Homo sapiens: one gene and its partners. The protein of the gene in region 7 purifies or fractionates together with the protein of the main gene of each other region. This does not show direct contact. Each region holds a gene or a part of one and is shown on either strand. Other genes may lie near its edges.

The links.
Region 1: the proteins of SLC25A41 (region 7) and RFTN1 purify together in Homo sapiens (affinity purification with mass spectrometry; 3 studies listed by BioGRID and IntAct, with this or other methods). This does not show direct contact.
Region 2: the proteins of SLC25A41 (region 7) and EPN1 purify together in Homo sapiens (affinity purification with mass spectrometry; 3 studies listed by BioGRID and IntAct, with this or other methods). This does not show direct contact.
Region 3: the proteins of SLC25A41 (region 7) and FCHO2 purify together in Homo sapiens (affinity purification with mass spectrometry; 3 studies listed by BioGRID and IntAct, with this or other methods). This does not show direct contact.
Region 4: the proteins of SLC25A41 (region 7) and NCS1 purify together in Homo sapiens (affinity purification with mass spectrometry; 3 studies listed by BioGRID and IntAct, with this or other methods). This does not show direct contact.
Region 5: the proteins of SLC25A41 (region 7) and GNAZ purify together in Homo sapiens (affinity purification with mass spectrometry; 3 studies listed by BioGRID and IntAct, with this or other methods). This does not show direct contact.
Region 6: the proteins of SLC25A41 (region 7) and NSUN4 purify together in Homo sapiens (affinity purification with mass spectrometry; 3 studies listed by BioGRID and IntAct, with this or other methods). This does not show direct contact.

Annotation. Positions count from the first base shown.
Region 1 is NC_000003.12:16,381,200-16,384,699, forward strand, and holds part of RFTN1 (raftlin), read right to left. Parts: intron 1-3,500. UniProt on the Homo sapiens protein: Involved in protein trafficking via association with clathrin and AP2 complex.
Region 2 is NC_000019.10:55,685,226-55,688,725, reverse strand, and holds part of EPN1 (epsin-1), read right to left. Parts: intron 3,331-3,500; coding exon 3,081-3,330; intron 1-3,080. UniProt on the Homo sapiens protein: Binds to membranes enriched in phosphatidylinositol 4,5-bisphosphate (PtdIns(4,5)P2). Modifies membrane curvature and facilitates the formation of clathrin-coated invaginations. Regulates receptor-mediated endocytosis.
Region 3 is NC_000005.10:72,959,041-72,962,540, reverse strand, and holds part of FCHO2 (F-BAR domain only protein 2), read right to left. Parts: intron 1-3,500. UniProt on the Homo sapiens protein: Functions in an early step of clathrin-mediated endocytosis. Has both a membrane binding/bending activity and the ability to recruit proteins essential to the formation of functional clathrin-coated pits.
Region 4 is NC_000009.12:130,175,404-130,178,903, reverse strand, and holds part of NCS1 (neuronal calcium sensor 1), read right to left. Parts: intron 1-3,500. UniProt on the Homo sapiens protein: Neuronal calcium sensor, regulator of G protein-coupled receptor phosphorylation in a calcium dependent manner. Directly regulates GRK1 (RHOK), but not GRK2 to GRK5. Can substitute for calmodulin. Stimulates PI4KB kinase activity.
Region 5 is NC_000022.11:23,098,019-23,101,518, reverse strand, and holds part of GNAZ (guanine nucleotide-binding protein G(z) subunit alpha), read right to left. Parts: intron 2,908-3,500; coding exon of another isoform or gene 2,707-2,907; exon of another isoform or gene 1-2,706. UniProt on the Homo sapiens protein: Guanine nucleotide-binding proteins (G proteins) are involved as modulators or transducers in various transmembrane signaling systems.
Region 6 is NC_000001.11:46,350,807-46,354,306, forward strand, and holds part of NSUN4 (5-cytosine rRNA methyltransferase NSUN4), read left to right. Parts: intron 1-2,061; coding exon 2,062-2,222; intron 2,223-3,500. UniProt on the Homo sapiens protein: Mitochondrial RNA cytosine C(5)-methyltransferase that methylates cytosine to 5-methylcytosine (m5C) in various RNAs, such as rRNAs, mRNAs and some long non-coding RNAs (lncRNAs).
Region 7 is NC_000019.10:6,428,151-6,430,763, forward strand, and holds part of SLC25A41 (mitochondrial carrier protein SCaMC-3L), read right to left. Parts: intron 2,469-2,613; exon of another isoform or gene 2,371-2,468; intron 2,012-2,370; coding exon 1,859-2,011; intron 1,682-1,858; coding exon 1,574-1,681; intron 1-1,573. UniProt on the Homo sapiens protein: Calcium-independent ATP-Mg/Pi exchanger that catalyzes the electroneutral exchange of Mg-ATP or free ADP against an hydrogenphosphate and participates in the net transport of adenine nucleotides across the mitochondria inner membrane.

The DNA of each region.
Region 1 (3,500 bases), on a different chromosome or scaffold from region 7:
TAAAAACAGTCACCAAAATGAAAACAGCACTGTATTTGGGGAGTGGGGCTATAAGTGATTTTTTTCTATTACTGTGTAATTTTCAAAATTTACTTAAGGGGCATGGATGTTACTTTTAGAATTGAAAAAGTAAATATTGTAAAAATTCCTCATAGAGGATAATATAGTAATGGATGTGAAGGCATAGACATGACAGTGACAATGGTGATTATTTCTGCCTGAAGGGGAGGTTGAGAAAAGTTTCTCCGAGTAGATCAGGGATGTAACAAATGACGTGGTGTAACACAAAAGGAAGAATAAGAAATGTGGCAGAACTGGAGCATGCATGCCTCACCTTAAAGCATTCAAATCCAATTTTTTTTTTCCAAAATGCCATGCTAGACAAAACCTATTTGGGACCTACTCTGCAGAAGGCTTTGAAGGATGAATAAGAGTTCAGCACATATGTAAAGGAAAAGGAGAGGGCAATCCATGTAAAGGCAAGGAAGGATCATGATGGGCAAAAGCGTGACAGTATGCAACAGCCTGGTGTGTTGAGGAAATTTCTAGAAATATTTCTGGAACATGACATGAGAAACCAAGAGGAGCCCAGAAATGAAGCTTGACTAGACATGACAAGGACCGGATCACATATGGCCTTGGATCCATGCCCGCAAAGGCTCTCAGTTCACCCTGCAGGCCAGCATATCCGACTCTCCCACCACAGTCATAACCTCAAGAGCAGAGGAGAGTGGGAGTCTGAGGGAAAACTGCAAGATTTCTTCGAATGCTCATCTTTTACCTTCAACTTCAGCACAAATTTTGTATCTTATACCATAGTGCTACCTAGGATCCAAACTTTAAAAAGATGTCAAAGTTAAATGCTGCCCTTATCCTATGCATTCCAGGGAAATTCACACCCCCAAGAAGAGGAAGCATATTTGTAGCTCTGCTTATTTCCTTCAAATAGATTCCTGGAAGTAGAATTAATGAATGAAGGGATATTAACTTTTCAAAGGCTTGGCAGAGGCTGCCAAGTTGTTTACCAAAAAGGGTGCGTAGTCCTTTTTAACTAGACGACCACATTTAGATTTTATGAAGATCAATATTTGGCTAGATCTAGGGGCCACGACTCTTACAGTTCTGTCTTACCCTAGTATAGACACTTTCCTCTTTTTCAGAAAGTCATTTGACCGTGTACTTATGGCTAAAGTAAATCCTGCTTCTCATTCTTGCATTTATAACCTTTACTGAGCCAGTCTCACATTCATCATGGTGGTGGGCATGCGATGTATTCATCAGGGTTCATCCCCGGCTGCCAGCTCTCCTCCACTCTACACTCCCCTTGGTGACTTCCTCTACTCACATGGGTTTAGCTACAAATCAGATGTTCATTATTCCTAAGTGTGAACCCCTAGCCCTGGCTTTCCTTGCAAGTTCAGACCTACACAGAAGACGATCACAGCTGACGGGTCCACTGTTGATCTGGTCTCACCAGCTGGAATCACAGTATCTTCTTCCCTGTTTCTAATCCTGTGTGTCTGTTCACCACACCCTACCACATTTATCCCCCAGTGTTTCTGGAATTACTTCCTCCTTCTCCATAAAGTGACCATCCAAGCTCACTTTATTTCAAGCCCTCATCATCTGTTGCTGGACATCACCATGACCTCAGGCGATGCCAGGGTCTTCATGAGCATGGAACCAAATCAACATGGAAGAACAGGTCATGAGGAGCCAGGTCACCTCAGCCATGGAGCTCCCCACAGACTCCCACGCATGCCCACAACATCTCTAACAACAGCGATTACAGGAAACAGCAACTATTAACATTGCACAGCTCTTCTACAAAGAACTTTCACATGCATTCCCTTAGGCCTCAAAATCATACCTTACAGAAGAGAAAACTGCTTAAGACATTCTGTGACTGGTCAAACCTCACAGAACTACCCAAAGCCATGCCTGGCTTTCGCTCTGAGTATCCTAAGCCCAACCTGATGCCTCTTCAACGATACCACTCTTTCCACTTCAGATAATCTGACCTGTGCCAAGATGCCCAGGTGGATGCCTGTTTAAACTGATATACACCCTCACCCACCTTATTCTCATTTCTGCTGCCTGTAAGAACCCACCTGCCCCAAATACTTAAAGAGTAACAATTTCTGGTTGAGGCACTGAAAATTAAACATGGCTGTTTTGACTAATCCACAACTTCACTCAGTTGCTCTATAATAAGTAAGGACATGCTCCACTGTAACTATAATCAGGAATCATGATGTGAAAAATATTTCTTTTTAAAAAAATGTAGTTATATAAAAAGTCACAAGTCATTGTAAAAAAAATCTTTGGTTATATATTTGAGGAATTATTTTTATTAAAAATAATATGACATTAGATTTCTAGGATGGATTGTCTGTTTCTATGTCCAAAATGAATACCATGTTGCTAATGATAAGTGCGATATATACTCTATGTGCATGCGAATATACGTATTTGTGATTTAGAGTATGTGTATCAATCGGGGTGAGAAATCAGAAAGAAGTGAGACACAGGTTGGATTTCATAAAAATGAAGGCTATATGGAACATAGGAAAAGGAAGAGAAAAGCCTCCTGCTCACAGGTCAATAGGGATTGGAGTGTCCACAGCCTGTAGTAGATAGCATGGGTAAAGAGTCAGAGACACTTCCAAGACTGTTTTGTCTGACTCTAAGGAGGATGGTGTCACAGTTAATTTTATGTCCACTTGACTGAACTATGGTGACCAATTGTTTGGTAAAACTCTAGTCTAGATGTTGCTGTAAAGGTATTTTTTAAATGTGTGATTAACATTTACTATCAGTTGACTTTCGGTAAAGTGGATTCCTCCATTATTAGGTGGGTCTCATCTAATCAGGTGAAGGCTTTAAGAGCCAAGACTGAGATTTCCCAAAGGAAAAAGAATTCTGCCTCTGGACTGCAACACAGAAATTCTCCCTGGGTTTTCTCCCCTTCAAACTCAAAGACTGCAACACCAGTCCTTACCTGAATGTCCAGTCTGCTGGACTGCCCTGCAGATGTCAGACTTGTTGGCCCCCACTATCACATGAGCCAGTTCCTTAAAATAATCAATTTTCTCTCTTCCCACCAGGAGGTAGGGGAAAATAAGATAGCACAGGGCAAGTTGATGGAGGTCTCTAAATCTAAACCTGACTAGGCATGAAATAAAAGTTCGGTACAGGCTCCCAAATGACAGTGAGCCCCAAACAGAAACAAGACAACTAGGACTTCATCTGGTATCGATTCCAGGTCCTACGTGAGAGGCTGAAGTGTGGCAGGGAGGCTTTCAGCCATCACTGTTGCCCAGGTAAAGGAAATTTCCCCCATTGTGCTTTGAGGAGAGCTGCTACACACCAGGTAAGGGAGGTTGTATCTATAACTGATGGATTTATTTTCTACAAGTTACATAATAAACTTAATGAAATGCCTGTAACTAATGAGCTAATTAATGCTGGGAATCAGAAACCTACTGCTAAAAAATAGA
Region 2 (3,500 bases), about 49 Mb from region 7:
CTGAGAGGCGGAGACCAGACGCCAGGTGCTCAGAGGAGGAAGGGTGGGGATGCAGGCAGCCCCACCCACGGGAGGGGCCAGGCATCAGGGAAGGACCAGAGCAAAAGTCAGTCTGATAAGCAGGTGGGGAACCCCAGCAACCTCTGAGCCCTGCCACCACCAGGACTCTCCGCGTGCCTGGGGTCTGTCCCTGGGCCCCTGGGGGATGGGAGGTCCTTCCTCCCAGGTTTCCCAGGCCTGTTTCCAGGGCTTGTTGAGAATGGTAGCTCTGGCAGGGAACAACTGGAATTCAGAGGGGAGAACAGCATCCATTGAGACAGCGGGATCCAAGGCCTAGTCGGGGTTAGGGAGTGGGCTAGCGAGGAGCCCTTGGTTCCAAGAGCAGGAGGGGAAGGGAGAGAGAGGACACAGGAAGGCAGGGCCGGACCCTCCAGGAGGCTGCTGAGATATCCCCGGCCTCCACTGCAGCATCCTCTCAGCAACCCCGCCTACCCTCAAACTCTGTCCTGACACTGTTCTCTCCACCCCCAAGGCCTGTGGACCCTTGCCCCCCTCCACAGTGCAGAGGACAGGCTCCAACCAGGCCCTAGGCCCGCCGAGCACAGGGCCATTGCCCCAGCCTCCAAAGCCCCAGGGCGGACCCTGCCTCTCCTGCCCCGCCCTCCCAACCACTGTGCACTGGTCAGCAAGTTCTGTCTGCTCCAGCTCCAAGACGCCGCCTTGCACCTGTGTCCTGTACTTGTGTCCCCACCCAACCCACTCCCCAGGCCCAGGCCTCTCCCTGACGAGCAGGCCCTGGCTCCCCTTGCCCGGAGCCGCAGCAGGCAGCTGTCTGGCGGCCCCACCTGCACCGGGTCCAGGGGCCCCCAGGCTGGCCCCCGTGTGGTGTGCCCAGCAGGGCTGGGTGCATGGGATGCTCCAGGGAGCATGTGGGTGGCAGAGCGGGGCCGAAGGGTGACCATCTGGGGTTATGAGTGAGGAAAGGACGAGAGAACCAGCAGGGATTGACGGACTTGGGTGGGTAAGCGGCCTTCTGAGGGGATGGGCAGATGGAAGGGCAGCGTGGGGCACAGGTGAGGCCAGCGCACAGGGAGGACCACACCCCTGTGGCCCCTCCTGCTCTTCCCTGCCCCTGTGACTTCCTCCTAAGCTCTAGGGACTCTCAGAGGTGAGTGCTGGGAATCTACACCCCATTGCCCAACCTCTACCTTGCACATGCCCCTAACCCCCCAGCCTGGTGGTGGCTAAATCCAATGCCCAGCAGCCCTGAGGGCCCCACCTCCCACATCACAGGTAATACTGGCACCCAGCCAGCAACACCCGGGCCTTCCCATCACCAGAGCACCCAGCCTCGGTGCTGCCCGGGGACCACAGGCCCTTCCCTGCCCACTGAGGGTCTCAGGGCTCACTCCCTAGCTGCCCCCATCCTCCTCCCCAGCCACAGCCCTCCACACAACTCACTCCAAGACAGGGGCCAGCACACCACAGTGGCAGCCACAGCTGGCCTGAGAAGGTCTAAGAAAGGCCTTTACATTTTTCAATGGTTGGAAGAAATGAAAAGAATGCACCAAGATGGGCGAAAATTCAGAGTACCCTTAAAAAATTAAATAACAACTTAAAAGTCTTAAAAAAGACACGTGAAAACTACATAAAATTCAAATTTCGGAGACCTTGGTGAGTGTCGGAGGGGTGCAGCTGCTTCCCAGCAACCGCCAGCGGACGGGGCCAGGCAGCTAGGATGGGAAGGCGTGGCCAGCAACGCAGAGGACATTAGCTCTGGCCTTGCACAAAGTCTGACGACCCCCGAGCCAGGATGTCCCACCCTCAGGCCTCTTACCTGAGGCTCCCACTCTCCTCCGAGCTACTGCCAATGTCCCTCCTCCGTCCACCCCAACCCCGCCACCCACCTGCCTGCCTGCCTGCCTCGAGCTGACCAGCCCCTCTCTGCCGCCTACACTCCCTCCTGTTGTCCCTGGCTCTGAGCACTCCCACGCCACACCGGCTTCCTTCCCTCCACTTCACTCTCTCTCTGCGTTCACGCCCATCTACTGGCTCGTGGGTCCCTACTCTGGAGTCCCAGGCAGGGTCGCACACACCCCGTCACACCCATGTCTCCCCGTGGGTGCTGAAAGGTGATCCCAAATGAGACCCGTCCAAACAGAAGGCCTAGACTTCCCCAAACAAGTCCAGTCCCTCGAGCCGGACCCCACGAGGGCCACAGGCCCTTCCTCCTGTCTGCACCGGCCTGGCTGACCCACCTCCACCTCCAGGGCAGTGCTCTAGCAGCCCCTCCCCATCCCACGTATCCCCACTAACTGAGGCACCTCCACTCTTCCTGGAGAGCAGAAGAGCCTGGCAGACATTCTCCAGCCTCCCTCCCAGTCCTGAGCAGCCGGACTAGCCTCTTCACGGCTGTGAGCCCCCGACCAACACAGACCACACTTCCTGGAACAGTCCGAGACCCACACACCCATCACATAACTGGAAATGTTTCGTGGGACAGATCTTGGCTTGACGATGTGGGATGCACTATTTCAAGTTTTGTTTTCGGTGCTGGTCACCACCCACCAGACTGAGTCCTCCACCTCCAGAAGGCACTGTCAAGGCTCCTAACACAGGCCCAGATGCCTGGTGCAACCTGCAGGCCCTGGCTCTGGCCTTCCTTCTGTGCCTCTTCCAGGCCCCCCTCTGCCTCTCCGATGTTCCCCTCATCTCAGCGCAGAGAGAAGGACAGCACCCTCGGGGGTCACTGTGCGTGTCCCCTCAGAGCCCTGTCCCCAGCACTGATCACCCTCAGGCCCTGAGCCTATGGGGGAGCGGAATAAAAGTTCCCAATTCTAGGCCTGCCCTGGGGCACGAGGCAAGAGGCAGGAAGGGTCCCAGAGCTGCTGCATGGGAGGTGCTAAGGGAAAAAAAGGGCCCAAGTGAGACCAGAGCAAGGGGCCCAGGTGAGGAGAAGCAAAGGGGGATGCCGCGGTCCCTCCTGGCTGGGAGAGAAAGCAGTGGGCGGCCGGGTGCCGGGAGCCGCAGTAGGCGGAGGACAGACTCTAGGCCGTCAGGGGCCGCAGGGAGGGACTCACCCGTGGCGGTCTGTGCCAGCTTTTCCTTGGTCTTGAGCGCGTGCGCCCGCTCTTCCCGCAGCCGGTCCTCGTCGCGCAGCAGGGCCACCAGCTGCTTAGCTTTCTCACGCACGTTCACGCCCTGGTCCTTGCCGTCGCGGTCCACGTACTGGAAGTCCTTCAGCGTCTGCACGGCGTACATGTTCTCCTTGCACTGCTGCGACACGCGCTCCGAGCCGGTCTTGATGAGGTACTCCATCAGCGTCATGGCCTGCGAGCGGGCACGGGGATGCCCGGTCAGCACGCCGGGCACAAGGCGGGCCAGAGACTGCCTGCGACGCGGGCTCTGGGGCGGCCGACTGGGCGCAAGGCCCACAACCCACCTGTCGCCAGTGGGTGGACACACATCTGTCCCCACAGAATACGACACGGCCATGCAAA
Region 3 (3,500 bases), on a different chromosome or scaffold from region 7:
GTTTCCATGGGATCCTATTTCCATTTGAATTTCTAAGGGTGCTTCCGTTAACTATTCTAGAATTATGACATCAGGATGGATAATCTCAGGAGATACCTCAGTGACTCAAAAAACTACTTTCAAAGGGCTTATATTAGCCACATGTGCAGGATGATTTAAAGCATAACTGTTCCCTCATCCTTTGCTTAAATAATTTAAGTAGTTCTGAAAGGACTACAGCATTTAGGATTTAGTGTGTAGAGCTAAAAAAGAACGCAGACATCAAATTTATATCCTTTCAAATGTCAAAGTTCTAAAATCCTCCCCCTGAACTGAACATATATACACACTAAATCAGTACCAATTTTCACTTCCAAATTTCTCCTATAATTAAGGTTAAAAAATAAAACAAATCACACCCCTTAAAAAATTCTAAGGGCCTCTCAAATTTTAGTGCAATCTAAAACACTATAATTTTATAATGTCTACTGTCAAGTCTTCTGCATCAAGTTAAATGAATCTGTAGTCTTCATTTTCACAGCTTGTTGCAATGGGAACAAGTTGGGCCTGGCTAACTTGCTAAAAGTTATACAATAATAATTTTAACCTAGTGGAGTGTATGTTATTTGGTCTCATCTGTGGAAAACCATATAAGAAATTGGTAATGGTGAAGCCGGGCATGGTGGCTCATGCCTGTAATCCCAGCACTTTGGGAGGCCGAGGCAGGCGGATCACCTGAGGTCAGGAGTTCGAGACCAGCCTCAACATGGAGAATCCCCATCTCTACTAAAAATACAAAATTAGCCAGGCATGGTGGTGCATGCCGGTAATCCCAGCTACCAGGGAGGCTAAGGCAGGAGAATTGCTTGAACCTGGGAGGCAGAGGTTGCAGCGAGCTGAGATCGCGCCATTGCACTCCAGCCTGGGCAACAAGAGCGAAACTCCGTCTCAAAAAAAAAAAAGAAAGAAATTGGTAATGGTGATTGCCTTTAGGGACATCTTGATTACCAGAGAAAAAGAAGATTTACTCCCTCTTATACCTTTTAAATATTAAACCATGTAAAATTTGCAAATCTCTTAATGTATAAAGTAAATATATACAGATATATAGATTTTGTTTTGGTATGTCATCTGATGGGATCATATCCTAAAAACAGGTATCCCAAACTACAATATTTGGAAATTTCAAGTAATGAAAAGCCTTTATTCTGGGTTTCAAATATGGTCACCTAAACTAATTTGCTAAAGATATATATTTTAAAATTTCATATGGATACATAACCCCAAAGAATGTGTGTTAGTCTCTCATCTAGGATACTAAGTTTAGATTAATCAAGCAAAAATATAATAATGTTTTTTATCCCAAAGACCTATTAATAGCAATTCCAGAATTTTAAAATACATTTTAATTCTCTTAGCTTATCCAAGTAATGATAAATCAAATTTTGGGTATATAACCAATGTTTCAATTTAATTTTAAATCAAAATGTAACAAAACCAATAAAATCAAGTGAAATGAGACTTCTGTACAGTTAATCAGTAAAAGAAATAAGGAAAAACTTCAGGATAAAAATACCTAATTGTTGTTTGTTCATTTTTTATGTGCTGACTATAGATAACCTCTGGAAAAAGTCACCTAACTAAAAATCTCAGCTCATTACAATGTGATATATACTAAAGAATACTACTTAGTGTCTTTGGGTGAATGCTTCATATCGTATATAGATTGGGATTACTCTGTAAAATGAAGATTATAAGCTATTCAACTCAGGTATGTTTTACATACTTATTTGTCCCCCATTAATAATTACCTATGAAATGCATTAAGGTTTTTTTGCTGAATAATCTGGGTTTACATAAAAATATAATGCCATTTTAATTATTACATAGCAATGTTGTTATAATCTCAAGACTATTATAAACTTGTACTCAATTATTCCTTTGAGAAAGCAGCGGCTTAGACACTTCCTCACTGTAATACTGATCAATATCTTTTTAAAGTTACATAATCTTTTATAATATCTTTTTAAAGTTACATAATGTTTAATATGTAAAAATAAAGATAAAAAACAATTGTTTTTACATATTAAAAGCAATGGTGTGAATTTCTACTAGTAAAATTATTTTTGCGTCCAATTTTAATTTTGCTGTCCAATTTCAGCTTGATTATCAATGGTGCTATACTTCGTGGCAAAAACTGACTTATCAATAACAAAACACCTGTTCTGTAAAAGGTTTTGAATAATTTTTCCTTCAAAGTACAGTATTAAGTAAAGGAATTTTCAATTTAGCATATAGTTTCAATTGAGAAAACCTATACTTTAAAGAAAAAGGAAGAATGTGCTGCTTTCAAAAGAGCTTGAAGAGAGTTTCAACGATTCAAACTTTCTTCTAATGAAATGTCACAACAAAAAAGGTTTGTCTTTATACATGTAGGGGAGAAAACAATTAATAGGTTGTTTGATTAGAAACCTAAAACTTTGGCTGGGCACAGTGGCTCAGCCTTTTAATCCCAGCACTTTGGGAAGCTGAGGCGGAAACATGGCTTGAGCCCAGGAGTTCGAGACCAGCCTGGGCAACATAGCGAGATCTCATCTCCACAAATAATTTAAAAACCAGCTGGTCATGGTGGCCTGTACCTGTGGTCGCACCTACTTGGAAGGCTGAGGTGGGAGGATCATTTGAGCTTGGGTGGTTGAAGCTGCAGCGAGCCATGCTCGTGCCACTGCGTGCCAGCCCAGGCAACACGGTGAGACTGCAATTCAGAAAAAAAAAAAAAAAAGAAAGAAGAGAAGAGAGAGAAGAGAAGACAAGACAAGACAGACCTAAAACATCAAAGGTTCTCACTACCTCACTTTGACAAGTTTTTATCTTTTAATTGATGAAAAACATATATATTTATCATATAGAGCACGATGTTTTGAATTTTGACAATTTTATTTCCTTTTAATAGTTCCACTTTAAATGCTAGAGGGAAGAGTTAAATTAATATCTATTTTAAGGGATTATTTTATAAATGATCCTGAAATATGTGAATTTTTAGTTTTCTGTTTTTGAGACAGGGTCTCACTCTGTTGCCCAGGCTGGAGTACAGTGACCAATCATAACCTACTGCAACCTTGAACTCCTGGGCTCAAGCAATCCTCCTACCTTAGCCTTCCAAGTAGCTGGGACTACAGGCATATGCCACCACACTTGGCTAATTTTTTAAAATTTTTTGTAGAGACAAGGTCTACTGTGTTGCCCAGGCTGGTCTCCAATTCTTGGGCTCAATCCATTCCCCTGCCTCAGCCTCCCAAAGTGCTGGGATTACAGGAGTGAACCACCATGCCCAGCCTAAAATGACAACTATAAATTCTCGGAAGTTAATTATTTAGTTAATTCCTAGACCTTCCTAGCTCACTGAGCCTCCTCACAGCCCCAATTCCAAGCCAGGAAATAAAATAAAATGCAGTCTATTAACTATTTGTTTTCAATAGTGAAAGTGAAGGCAAAAACTAAAACATAAATTAGATTTGGAG
Region 4 (3,500 bases), on a different chromosome or scaffold from region 7:
GAGGGCAGGGGAGGGGAAAGAAGGGAGGGGAGGGGAGGGGAGGGGAGGGGAGGGGAGGGGAGGGGAGGGAAACCAAGTCCTACTGAGTCTTCCTCCTAAATATATCTGGAATCTGTCTTTCATGTCATCCCCACCGATACTCCAGTTCATCACCATGATCACCTTCGGTCTCATTACCACCCCTCTTCCCCGCCAGTCCATTCCGGGACTGCAGCCAACAACAATTTTTCTAAACCCAAATCTAATGTGTCTCCATCACCTCCCTTCCACGGCTCCCTACGGATCTCGAATAATGTCCAAATTCCTTCCTGTGGCCTCTCAGAGGGTGACATGGGCCCGGCCCACTCGACAGGACACCACCCCCCTCCACTGCCCATGCCTTGCCCCAAAGGGGTTTAAGACAGGCCTTGGGAGCAGCAGGAGCTGGGTCCGATCCCAAGGCCTCTGCCGGGGAAAAGGGCTTTCCCCTGACACGGGGTGATGGGAGAATTCTGTGGGGTGATGTAGGGAAGGGAGAAGCTGGGTCCCATTTAACCTGGAGCCCAAGGAGGCAGAAAGGGCAAAAAGAGCCTGTGAGGAGGAGGCTGGGCTCTGGGGCCTGGGTGAGTCCCTGCCATTCACCAGCTGCCCCTTCCCTCTCTGTACAAGGGGGTGGCCACAGGCCACCTGCCCTGGATGCGGAAGACTTGCACCCCAAGGACCAGCTGCTGCCAGGAAAGTTTTGAAAGGTTCCCCTCATGGCCAGGCGCAGCAGCTCATGCCTGTAATCCCAACACTTCAGGAGGCCGAGATGGGAGGAGATCACTTGAGGCCAGGAGTTCGAGACTAGCCTGGCCAACATAGCGAGATCCCATCTCTATAGAAATAAAAATATAAATAAATAAAGGTTCCCCTCAGAACCAGGCACCAAGCTAAACCCTTCATATGCCCCGAATCCTCCTCAACACTGAGGCCTTCCAAAACTGCCCATTTTCCAGAGGCGGAAAGTGAAGCCGGTGAGAGGAGGTTTGCCCAAGGAAGGGGCCAGAACCGCAGAACTCGCCCCTGAGCCCTCCTTCCCTCCCAGGGACTCTCCTGCCAAACAACCCCTTTGTCTTTCTGGCCCGCTCCCCGGACTGCAAAGCTTCTCCTGTTTAGATCCATGGAGTTGGAAGGCAGGTCTGAAGGATGAGCAAGCTGGTGCTCAGAGAGGCCAAGGGACTTCCCCAAGGTCACCAAGGCCGAGTGAGGACCCAGCCCCGCACCGCAGGGGATCGAGTCCTCTCCTAATAACACAGGTGATGTTTCTTGCCCAGATGCCCATCCCGATGCCGAGAGTCCACCTCAGTCTCTCCTGCTGCTGCTCTGCTCCACTGTCAGAGAAAGGAAAGGCCTCCTTGGTTCATGCCCACGCACACGGGATGTACAGGGACGGCCGAAGCCCCTCCCTTGCTTTGGTCCTTTCCTCTCCTTGTGGCTCACCCTGTGCCTGGCTGTGGGCCCTCCATGTCCCCACGCAGCCATCACACAACCCCCAGCTTTGTCCCAAGATGGTCTCCAGTGACTGCCTCCTGAAGGCAGCAGCTTGGCCCACCCTGGTTGAGCAGAGTTGGGTGGGGAGTGATGATCAGAGAATATTCCTCACCCTAGAGGAAGGGGCCCTCATGGGCCCCAGGACAGTCCACAACCAGAGACACCCAAGAACCCAACTGCTGACCCCAACCTGGAGCCAGGGACCCGTCCTCTGCTCGGGGTCACAGAGGCGTCAGCCGTGGGCTCCTGCCCTCCACCTGCTCCTGTGTGCCGGCACCATTCTGGGCATTAGGGAAAAGGCAGAGGAGAGTCAAGGTTGGCAGGCAAGGTCAAGGCAGAGCCTGGGCTGACCAAAGGCAACAGGGAGGAGGTGGCCACCCCTGAGTCCCAGACCGAGGGTCCCTGGGAAGGACCGCAAACATCATGGGGAGGAGAAGGAGAAGGGAGGAGGGCAGAGGTTGTGCCTCTTGGGCCTGGCTGGCTTGGGCCTGCAGTGGCCTCAGAAGCCTTTAAGGGGATGCAGCTCAGACCACCACAAATGGCTTGCACCCCCATGCTGGAGTTTTCGGATAACCCGGCTGCTTTCCTCCTGAGGCCAGGGATTCCATCTCTCTGGTCCACTCCTCTGTCTCCATGCCTGGCACACAGTGAGCACTTAATGAACAGGCCAGGGCAGCTTCACAATTCACAAGTGGGGCTGCGGAGGCCGCTACACGTAAGAGCAGGCCCCTGCTGGGATTCAGGCACAGCAGTCATAGATGTCACCTTCTGTGTGCCAGGCACAAAGACCAGAGTCAGCAAGATTCCTCTGTGGAGAGAAGAAATTTGCCCACAAAATACACATAAGCCCAGTTCAAGATGAAGCTGTATTGTATGGTCAAAATGATATATATTAAGGCCGGGTGCGGTGGCTCAGGCCTGTGATCCCAGAACTTTGGGAAGCCAAGGCAGGAGGATTGCTTGAGGCCAAGAGTTTGAGACCAGCCCAGGCAAAAGGGCAAGACCCTAACTCTACAAAAAAAATGTTTTTAATTAGCCAGGTGTGGTGTTGTACACCCATGGTCCCAGCTACTGGGGAGGCTGAGGCAGGAGGATTGCTTGGACCCAGGAGGTCAAGGTTTAAGTGAGCCATGATTGCACCATTGCACTCCAGTCAGGGCAACACAGCCAGACCCTGTCTCCAAAAAAAAAAAAAAAGAAAGAAAGAAAGAAAGAAAGAAAGAAAGAAAGAAAGAAAGAAAGAAAGAAAGAAAATGAACAAATAAGCATTAATTACGATCACTGGCATTTACTGACCACATACCCCACGCCACATATCAGGCCCCACACTGCACATGAGTTACCCTGTTGACTTCTCACATCCTCTGAGTTCAGGTGCCATGAGCACACCTATTTTGCAGATGAGGAAACTGAGGCTCAGGTAGGTGAGGGGACCGGCCCATCCCACAGCCGGGACACACGGGGAAGCCAACAGCCTCACCAGCAGGTTGGAAGAGAGTGGGCCAGACCTGAAAGAAACTGGGCCGCCCGCAATGCTGACTGCCACTGTCTAAGTCTTGGCTGCAGAGTGACCCTGTCCATCTCTCCCTAACCTGTTGCTGGTGGAAGGCTGAGGACTGGGTTAGGGTTTGAGCCAGGTGGAATCCCAGTGTGTCCAGTGAGGGCCACACTGCTGGGGCCTTTAGACACTCCTGCTTCCTCACACACACAGACCACCACAGACAGAGCCAGAGACGCCCACCAAGGACACTGCCCAGCACCGACTCGGACGTGGACCCATGGCTCCCCTCTAGGCCCCCTTGGCACTGTGGCCAGCTATGCATGAGGTGGGCTAGGACCCCCAGCATACACTGGAACTGTGGTCTTCAATCCGGGCTCCCCAGGACCACCATCTGCAGCACAAACACGTGTCAAGGATGCAAATTCCTGGGCCCCAGCCAGACCTAAAGAATCGGAAATCCGGGAGGGCAGCCCAGGTACCTTCATGT
Region 5 (3,500 bases), on a different chromosome or scaffold from region 7:
ACTGACTAGGCCAGGAGACAAGGGGACGAGGGGAGTGTCAACCTTCACAGCCACTCACCTCTCCCAAGCCCAGGTGTCACTGTCCTCCACTCTCCTGAGGGAAGGCTGGCTACACAGCAGCTCCAAGGGTGGAACCCAGTCTATACCCCCAAGGCCCTTGCTGGAGAACCCCAGCACCCACAGGATGTGGGACCAGTATGGTGAAGAGGGGGGCCACTGGAATTCCCAGGGGCCAGTGCCAGGACCCTCCCTGAGAGCCAGAGTCTCAGCCCTGCGGTATGTGAAGGAACCTCTCTGAGGCTCAGTTTCCTCATCTGCAAAGCCGGCTGGTTAGGAACACTAAAGGATATATAAGGTCCCTTCTCAATCTAAGCCCTGGTATGCTGGGGAGAGGGTATCATCTGTGTCTGGCTATTGCCCATTTGTAATTCCCTCCTTGGGCAAATATAACCAGCTCTGTCATCAATAGGTATAAGCCTGTCTTACTGGAAACACCTTGTTTCACCCACAACACGCCATTTTATGGCACAAATGTTTAAACTCCATTTTAAAAGCACTAAAACAAGCACCCTTTTTGGGCTAAATGATAAACCACAGCGCTAGGGTGGCAGGAACACGCTGTGTTCACAGGACGGCCTTGGGCAGCCCCTCCTCAGGGTACTGCATACACTCCTGTTATGGACGAGCACCCATAGGGTCTCCTTGGGAAGGGCTGAGTGTCCCAGCTGCTCTGCACCCAGAAGCCAGGGCTCTGGAGCTCCAGCTCTTCCCAAGCCTACCGCCTCCCGCCCGCTCCACAAAGTCTGCAGAGCACCCACTGTGTGCCAGGCCCTCTGCTCAGAGCACAGGCTGTGCCGGGTGGGTGTGGACCTGCCCTCGTGGTGTGCTGAGGCTGCTGACCTGCCCTGGAGTGGGGAGGGGTTCCTCAGGAAGCCAATGGCCCCAGGACAAGGGACCACTATCCAGGGCCAGGCATAGACCACCTGCCTGGAGGCTGGCTGCTCAAGCACTTGCCACCTGCAGAACTTGCCCCACAAAAGGCATGTTCTTATGTCCCCCGTCCCCTGGATACCCTCACTGATAACATGTTGACCAGCTGTCTCTCAGATAAGTGGCAGAGACACCAGGCCTCCCACGGTGAACCCTGCTGTGACCCAGCCTGCCTGTGGGGCCCAAGTGACTACTGTGGGTCCTAGATGAAAGCACAATGGGGACACTGCTGGGAACTGCTGCCTGCCAGCTCTAGAAAGACAGGGCAGGTATCCCTGGTAGCAGAGGCTTTGTGGAAATGAAGCTGTAGCTGGGCTGGTGTGACTGCCTCCTCCTTGTCCCCCAGTTCCCTGTGCTGCTGGGAGAGTTGTGCTCACCCTCATACTTGGCCCCAGCCTGAGCCTTGAGCCTGCACAGCAGGTCCATCACAGGTGCAAAACAGACCCGCCACAGGGCTGGGAATGCTGACAGCTCCGTCGGGAAATGGGCAGTGAGCTCCCTGTGGGTTTCCACATGAGAACATTTGATGCTTTACAACTAGACCTTTTAATCTTGCCTTCTGAAGGATCCCACACCATTTGGTGGCCAGCAGAGTCCATTAGCTGATCCGCAAGGGCAGAGGTTGGGCAACAAGTGCCCACCTACCCCCTCAGGTGCCTCCAGTGGGGCCGAGTGAAGACCCAGGCTCTGCTGGTCACAGCCACCTGTGTCTGTCCCTCAGTGTGGGCTGGTAGGTGCCAGCTTCTCCACTTTGCCTTTCCCTCCTAGGGCAGCAGAGTGACTGTCTTTGCTGACTGACCCTTGTGTGAATGTACTAAAGACGAGGGGCAGAGCCTCTGCCATGGCTCTGGCTAAGTGGGAGGCCCGTGGTGGGTCCTGTGACACATGGCCTCTCAGGAGCTGTCCTTGTGGACTTGAGGGCTGGGGGCCCGCCAGCGCCAGCTGTGTGCCTGAGCCTCAGTGCCTCGATCTGTGACAAAAATAACAGGCGCTGCTGCCCCACAGGATCATTCAGGGGACAGGTGCGCCAGAAAAACCCCCTTGTGTTGCTGGGCTGTGTTCAGGCCTCCTGTGCTGCCTGAGGAAGCCCCAGCTGGGTGTTGGGCTTGGGGGCACTGGGGTGCCTGACACACCTGCAGGACTTGGCCCTAGTCAGGGCAAGGGACTGCCAATTCCTTCGGACGAGGGTGGGAACCGTGGCCATGGAGGGGCGTGGCTCCCCATGTGGCTCGCTGCCATGCTCCACAGACACCCGGAAATCTGCCTTCCCTGCTCTGAGGTGCTGCCCTGCACTCACTGCAGCCCTCACACCCGGGAGCCCAGAGACACTGACGTTCTCCTTGGCAACGTGCTGACGCAGAAGCCAGCGGGTGGGCCGGGGGGCTGTGGCTCCTTCGCCAGGCGTGGGGGTGGGGAGGCACTGCCAGCATCAGGGAAGATGAGGCCTTGGAAGCTGAGCACGGAAGGAGGGCTATGGAGGAGCCGTGTCCAGAGCCCTGGCACTGGGCCCCAAGGTTCATTCGGCTTTTGTGAAAACGAGCATGGCCTGTTCTTGGCTGCCTTGCCTTTGACAGGGCCCAGGGAGGACAGTTCAGCACGTTCCAAAAGGAGAGAGCAGAGTGGCAGCCCTGTGCCAGCCCGTGCCAGCACTGGCTCTGGCCCTGGCCCGGCTGGAGACGGGCTGTCCTCACTGCCGGCACCACTCTGGGGGCCAGCTCACCTCCGGGGCCAGCCCAGCCTGCGGGAGGAATCGCGGGAGGGGATTGTCTTTCCTCTGCAGCCTGTTTGTTTTCCATCTCCAGATATTACTGGTAGAGCATGAAAGGTCAGAATCATTTGGAATCCAGTGAATTTCCAGCCTCGCTTGGGTTTCTCATCAAGAATTTCCTTTTCTGGTGAACAACCACTTCCCCAGGCCTGCAGAAACCAGGGTGATGGTGGTGGGTGTGCCAGCCTGGCTGCCAGCCCCTCCCTTTAGAAAGTGCCTTGAATGCCTGGAACCTCACAGGGATCCCTGAGACCAGGCCAGTGGCTGCTGTCCCTGCCCATGGCTGCCCACCATGGCTCTCCCCAGGGACAGGCCTGGGAGAGGGAAAGCTAGAGATGTGAGGCCCCACAGGGGCCACCCAGCCCATCTAGGGCCTGCCCCGAGGAGCTCACTCACACATCACTAGATGGAGGAGTAAGCAGGTGCCGGGCTAGGTCAGAAAAGGCCTCCCAGGAGGCGCCACTTGGGATGAGACCTGGAGGATAAGGGCAGGGGTACGAGAGGCAGGGATCAGGATCATTACAAGCTTAAGGCTGGACAGAGCAGTACTGCTGGAGCAAAACAAGCTGACCACGGCTAGAGCAGAAGGAGAGGAGAGAGAGGCAGCAAGGTGGCAGGCACAGGCCAGTAAGAGCCAAGAGGGCTGCAGGCAGGCAAAGGCCTAGCCTTGGGCCCATCTGTGAAGACACCTGGGTCATCTCCTCACTGACAAGTTCAGAAAGCAAACATGACAGCCAAAGCC
Region 6 (3,500 bases), on a different chromosome or scaffold from region 7:
GTGTCAGCCTTAGCCTCCCTCCCTTTAAGAGGGAGAAGATATGTAACTAGTAAAGCTCTAAGGCAAGGCCTCATGGTCCAGAATGACTGCTGGAAGTCCAGCCATCACATCCATATTTGAGTCAAGAGGAAAGGATTGGGCAAAAGAGACTCATTTCATCTCCCAATTATGTCAGCCTTTTAAAAATATCTTCCCAGAATTCCTATCCAATACTTATGCCTACAACTATGACCAAAAGTTAGTCATATAGTCATACTTAGTTGTAAAAGAAAGGCTTAGCCGGGTGTGGTGGCTCACACCTGTAATCCCAGCACTTTGGGAGGCCGACGCAGGCAGATCACCTGAGGTCGGGAGTTCAAGACCAGCCTGACCAACATGGAGAAACCCCGTCTCTACTAAAAATACAAAATTTGCCGGCGTGGTGGCGCATGCCTGTAATCCCAGCTACTCGGGAGGCTGAGGCAGGAGAATCGCTTGAACCCGGGAGGCGGAGGTTATGGTAAGCCGAGATCGCGCCATTGCACTCTAGCCTGGGCAACAAGAGCGAAACTAAAGAAAGGTTGAGAAATGTAGTCTTTTGGGGCAATTTTCCCCTTCCAAAAAATTGGGGTTCTATTAATAAGGAGGAAGAGGAGAATGATTTTGGCTAAATAAACTGTAGTATCTACCAAAGATGAAGAGAGCCATAGGTTTCCAGAATAGTGGGAGAGCATATTTTTTTAGAAATAAATATTCTTGGCTGGGCATGGTGGCCCACACCCATCATCCCAGCACTTTGGGAGGCTGAGGTGGGAGAATTGCTTGAGGCCAGGAATTCAAGACCTACCTGGGCAACATAGTGAGACCCAGTCTCTTTTTTTTTTTTTTTTTTTTTTTGAGATGGAGCCTTGCTCTGTCGCCCAGGCTGGAATGCAGTGGCGCCATCTCGGCTCACTGCAAGCTCTGCCTCCCGGGTTCACGCCTTTCCCCTGCCTCAGCCTCCCGAGTAGCTGGGACTACAGGTACCCACCCCCATGCCCGGCTAATTTTTTGTATTTTTAGTAGAGACGGGGTTTCACCATGTTAGCCAGGATGGTCTCGATCTCCTGACCTTGTGATCCGCCTGCCTTGTCCTCCCAAAGTGCTGGGATTACAGGTGTGAGCCACCGTGCCTGGCCTTCCAGTCTCTTTTTAAAAAATTATTTAAATATATTTTTATTTTTGTAGAAATGAGGTATCGCTATGTTGCCCAGGCTGGTCTTGAACTCCTGGGCTGAAGCAATCCACCTACTTTGGCGTCCTCCCAAAGTGCTGGGATGAGAGGCGTGAGCCACTATGCCCAGACTCAGAGACCCTGTCTTTAAAAAAAAAAAAAAAGAATGTGGCTGGGTGCAGTGGCTCACACCTGTAATCCTAGCACTTTGGGAGGCCAAGGCAGGCGGGATCACCTGAGGTCAGGAGTTCAAGACCAGCCTGGCCAACATGGTGAAATGCTGTCTCTACTAAAAATGCAAAAATTAGCCGGGTATAGTGGTGCACACCCATAGTCCCAGCTACTCAGGAGGCTAAGGCATGATAATCACTTGAACCCAGGAGGTGGAGGTTGCAGTGAGCTGAGAGTGTGCCACTGAACTCCAGCCTGGGCGACAGAATGAGACTCTGTCTTAAAAAAAAAACAAAAGGAAAGAGAGGGAGAGAAAGAAAAGGAGAGAAAGGAAAGGGAGGAAAGGGGAGAGGGAAAGGAGAGAAGAAAGGCGAAAGTAATGGGGAAAGGAAAAGGGGAAAGGGGAAAGAAAGGGGAGAAAGGGGAGAGAGGACAGGAAAGGAGAAAGGAAAGGAGTCTTACTTGGTCTGCTTTATTCATTGACTTAAATAACTTTGATACTTTCTGGCCCATTTAGGTGTTTGCCATTGTACCCCCACTCAGAATGACTGATGCTGTGCCATGCACATAATAAATGTTCCTGATGCTGGGGTTTGCATTGGCTGGGACTACCTGAGAATTGGTCTGACTCCATCAGCGCCATTGCTGGTGGAATGTTTCATTGGGTCATGGCCTCTGAAGTATCTTTATTTCCATAGGCAATCTTGCTGCCAATGATCTCTCCCCGTCCCGAATAGCCAGACTACAGAAGATCCTTCACAGCTATGTGCCTGAAGAGATCAGGGATGGAAATCAAGTTCGAGTTACCTCATGGGATGGCAGGAAATGGGGAGAACTGGAGGGGGACACCTATGACCGGGTGAGTGATTCTTGATTTAGGACATGCATCCAGCTTAATGCGGCCTCCCCATCCTGGTTCTAGGGCCTGAGGGGTTAGGATCCAGCCCCTATGTTTGAGCATGTAGAGCTGTTTCTGGACTGGCCAGTTCTACATTGGTGATTTGACCAAAAGAAAAATCAGCTTAGATGACTGGTTATTATCTCTATTAAAGATAGTTGGCAGCAAAAAAGAATTTGAAACTATTTGAGTAGGGGAAAAATTTACTAGGCTTACTTTATTTCTCAAGTCACTTGGTTGCTCAGAAAGCCTCATGAAGGTAAGTAAGAATAAGCTCATTTATTTATTTTTGAATGTTAGTACAGCACATGGTACAAAATTCAGAAGGCACAAAAGAGTATCCAATGAAAAGTGAGTTTTTCTCATCTGGCCTGTAGCCCCCTACTTCCCCACCCTATAGATAACGATTGTTTCTTTTTTTTTTTTGAGACGGAGTTTCGCTTTTGTTGCCCAGGCTGGAGTGCAATGGCGCGATCTCTGCTCACTGCAGCCTCCGCCTCCTGGGTTCAAGCAATTCTCTGCCTCAGCCTCCCGAGTAGCTGGGATTACAAGCGCCCACCACCACGCCCGGCTAATTTTTGTATTTTTTTTAGTAGAGACGGGGCTTCACCATCTTGGCCAGGCTGGTCTTGACCTCCTGACCTCGTGATCCACCCGCCTCGGCCTCCCAAAGTGCTAGGATTACAGGCGTGAGCCACTGCGCCCAGCCGGTAGTATATTATATTATACTCACTATTCTGAACTTTGTATTTTTTTATTTAATAATGTGTCCTGGGGTTAAATCCTTTTTTAATTTTGTTGACATTGTGGAAGTATAGTTGTTGAATAACAGTTTACATCCATTTAAGATTTTGATAGCGATTGCTAAATTTCTCTGTGGAGGTTAAACCAGTTTCACTCCTACTGGTAATGAATGAGTACTGATTTCCCACATGCTGCCAATATTGGTGCTATCAAACTTAATTTTTTTGCCAAATGGATAGTATCTAATTTACAATCTCTTATTAATCATGTTGAAAATCTCCATATTAATTTTTTTAAAGTTTTTTTTTTTTGAGTGGCAGGTTTTCACTTTGTCACCCAGGCTGGAGTACAGTGGTGTGAACACGGCTCACTGCAGCCTCAACCTCCTGGGCTCAAGGGGTCCTCCTGCCTCAGTTTCCCGAGTAGCTGGGACTAGAGTGTGCCACCATGCCCAGCAAATGATTTTTTGTAGAGACGGGGTCTCACTATGTTGCC
Region 7 (2,613 bases):
TCATGCCTGTAATCCCAGCACTTTGGGAGGCCAAGGTGGGTGGAACACTTGAGGTCAGGAGTTTGAGACCATCCTGGGCAACATGGCGAAACCCTGTCTCTACTAAAAATACAAAAATTAGCTGGGTGTGGTGGCAGGCAGCTGTAATCCCAGCAGGAGAATCGCTTGAACCCAGAAGGTGGAGGTCGCAGTGAGCAGTGAGTCAAGATCGTGCCACTGCACTCCAGCCTGGGTGACAGAGTGAGACTCTCAAAAAAAAAAAAAAGAAAAAGAAAGAAAAAAAGGAGGGTTTCCGGTCCACAGATGAGAAATGAAAATATATATGTATACATATATATAGTATATATACATATTATATATGTATTATTATACATTATGCATATATTATATATAACATGCATAGACATATTTTTATATTACATAGTATATAATAAATGTAATTATATAATTAGATACATTAAATTATTTAGTTATATATAATATATACATGTTATATGTACTATATATTTACATAATAAGTAAGGTATATAATATATGTGTATATTATATATAAAACATATATATATATATATTTTTTTTGAGACAGGGTCTCCCTCTATCACCCAGGCTGGAGTGCAGTTGTGTCCCATCATAGCTCACTGCAGCTTCGACCTTCTGGGCTCAAGTGCTCCTCCCACCTCAGCCTCCTGAGTAGCTGGGACTACAGGCATGCGCCACCACACCTGGCTGATTTTTGTTTTCAGTAAAGATGGGGTCTTGCTATATTGCCCAGGCTGGTCTCAAACTCCTGGGCTCAAGCAAGCAGTCCTCCCAGCTCAGTCTCCCAAAGTGTTGGGATTACAGGCATGAGCCAAGGTGTCTGGCCTGAAAATTTATATATATATATATAATATATATATTATATATATGTTATATATATATATAATATATATATTATATATATGTTACATATATATATAATATATATATTATATATATGTTATATATATATATAATATATATATTATATATATAATATATATATAATATATATATGTTATATATATAATATATATGTTGTATATAATATATACATATATAAATTTATGAAAATGTTATATATATGTATATGTGTTATATATAATATATTCATATATAAATTTATAGAAAGGAGGAGGAGATTGGAGAGGAGGAGAAAGAGGTAAAGGGGGAAGAGGGAGAGGAGGGAGAAAGGAGGAGGGAGAAAGGAAAGGAAGAGGGGAGGAGAAGGGAGAAAGGAAGAGGGGAGGAGAAGGGAGAAAGGAGGAGGGAAGGAGGAGGAAGAAAGGAGGGGAGGAGGAGAGGAAAGAGGAGGGGAGGAGGAGGGAGAAAGGAGGAGGAGGAGAGGAGGAAGGAGAAAGGAGGAGGAAAGAGGAGGAGGGAGAAAGGAGGAGGGGAGACAGAGGAGGAAGAGGTGAACGGGGAGGAGGGAGAAGTGTGAGAAAAAAGGAGGAGAAAGGAGGAGGGGAGAAAGGAGGAAGAGGAAGTAGCCCCAGCAACGTGGGTAACTAGTTTCCACGGCGTTTCCTCACCTGCGGGGCACATGCTCTCTTACCTCCATGGGGTTGATGAGGGTCTGGGAGATGGCCACAGCCAGGGAGCCAGCAAGGAGACGCTCCTGGAAGGGCGGGGACCCTTGTATTCCACAGAAGTAATTCTTGCACTGGGAGAGGAGAGAGGAGGGTGAGAGAGAAGTCAGCCACCCTCCGACACAAAACCCGCGCAGGGAAGAGGCCTGGGGTCTGGAGGGTGAGTGTGTGCTTGAACAAGGGCCTGGAGTTTTGGGGGCATGGGAGGGGTTTGGGCTTGAGCTGGGGGAAGCAGGCCCCTCATTCCCCACCTGCTCGAATACGGAGAACTTGATGGCATACTCAGGAGCAATCTTGAGCACGTTGATGCCGTTGCCCCGCCACAGGGAGCGGAAGCCGCCCTCCTGGACCATGCTCTGTAGCCCCCCCAGCAGGTTGGTGAAGTTCGTCTTGGAGGAGTAGACCTGGGTGGAGGGAGGACCCTGGAGGAGCCCCTGCTCGCCTCTGTCTCCGTCCCCATCCCTGCCCCAAGCGCAGCCCCACCGGGACCTCCCAAGCCACCCAACCCCAACCCATCCCCATCCCATCCCCATTCCTTCTTCAGCTCCTTCCCCGGCCAGTTCTAGAATCGCATGCAACCCTGACCCAAAGCCAACATCAACCTACATTCCCACCTCACCCCTCCTCTTCATCTCCTCAGTCTTTTTCTCTCTCTCTTTCTTCCTTCCATCCTTTCCTTTCTTTCTCCCTTTTTGTTCCCTCCCTCCCTCCCTTCCTCCGTTCCTCCCTTCCTTCTTTTTTTTTTTTTTTGACGGAGTCTCACTCTGTCGCCCAGGCTGGAGTGCGGTCGGGGGATCTCGGCTCACTGCAACCTCCGCCTCCCAGGTTCAGGCGATTCTCCTGCCTCAGCCTCCCGAGTAGCTGGGATTACAGGCTAGTGTCACCACGCCTGGCTTATTTTTGTATTTTTAGTAGAGCTGGGGGTTTGCCATGTTGGCCAGGCTGGTCTGGAACTCCTGACCTCAGGTGATCTGCCCACCTTGGCCCCCCAAATTGCTGGGATTAC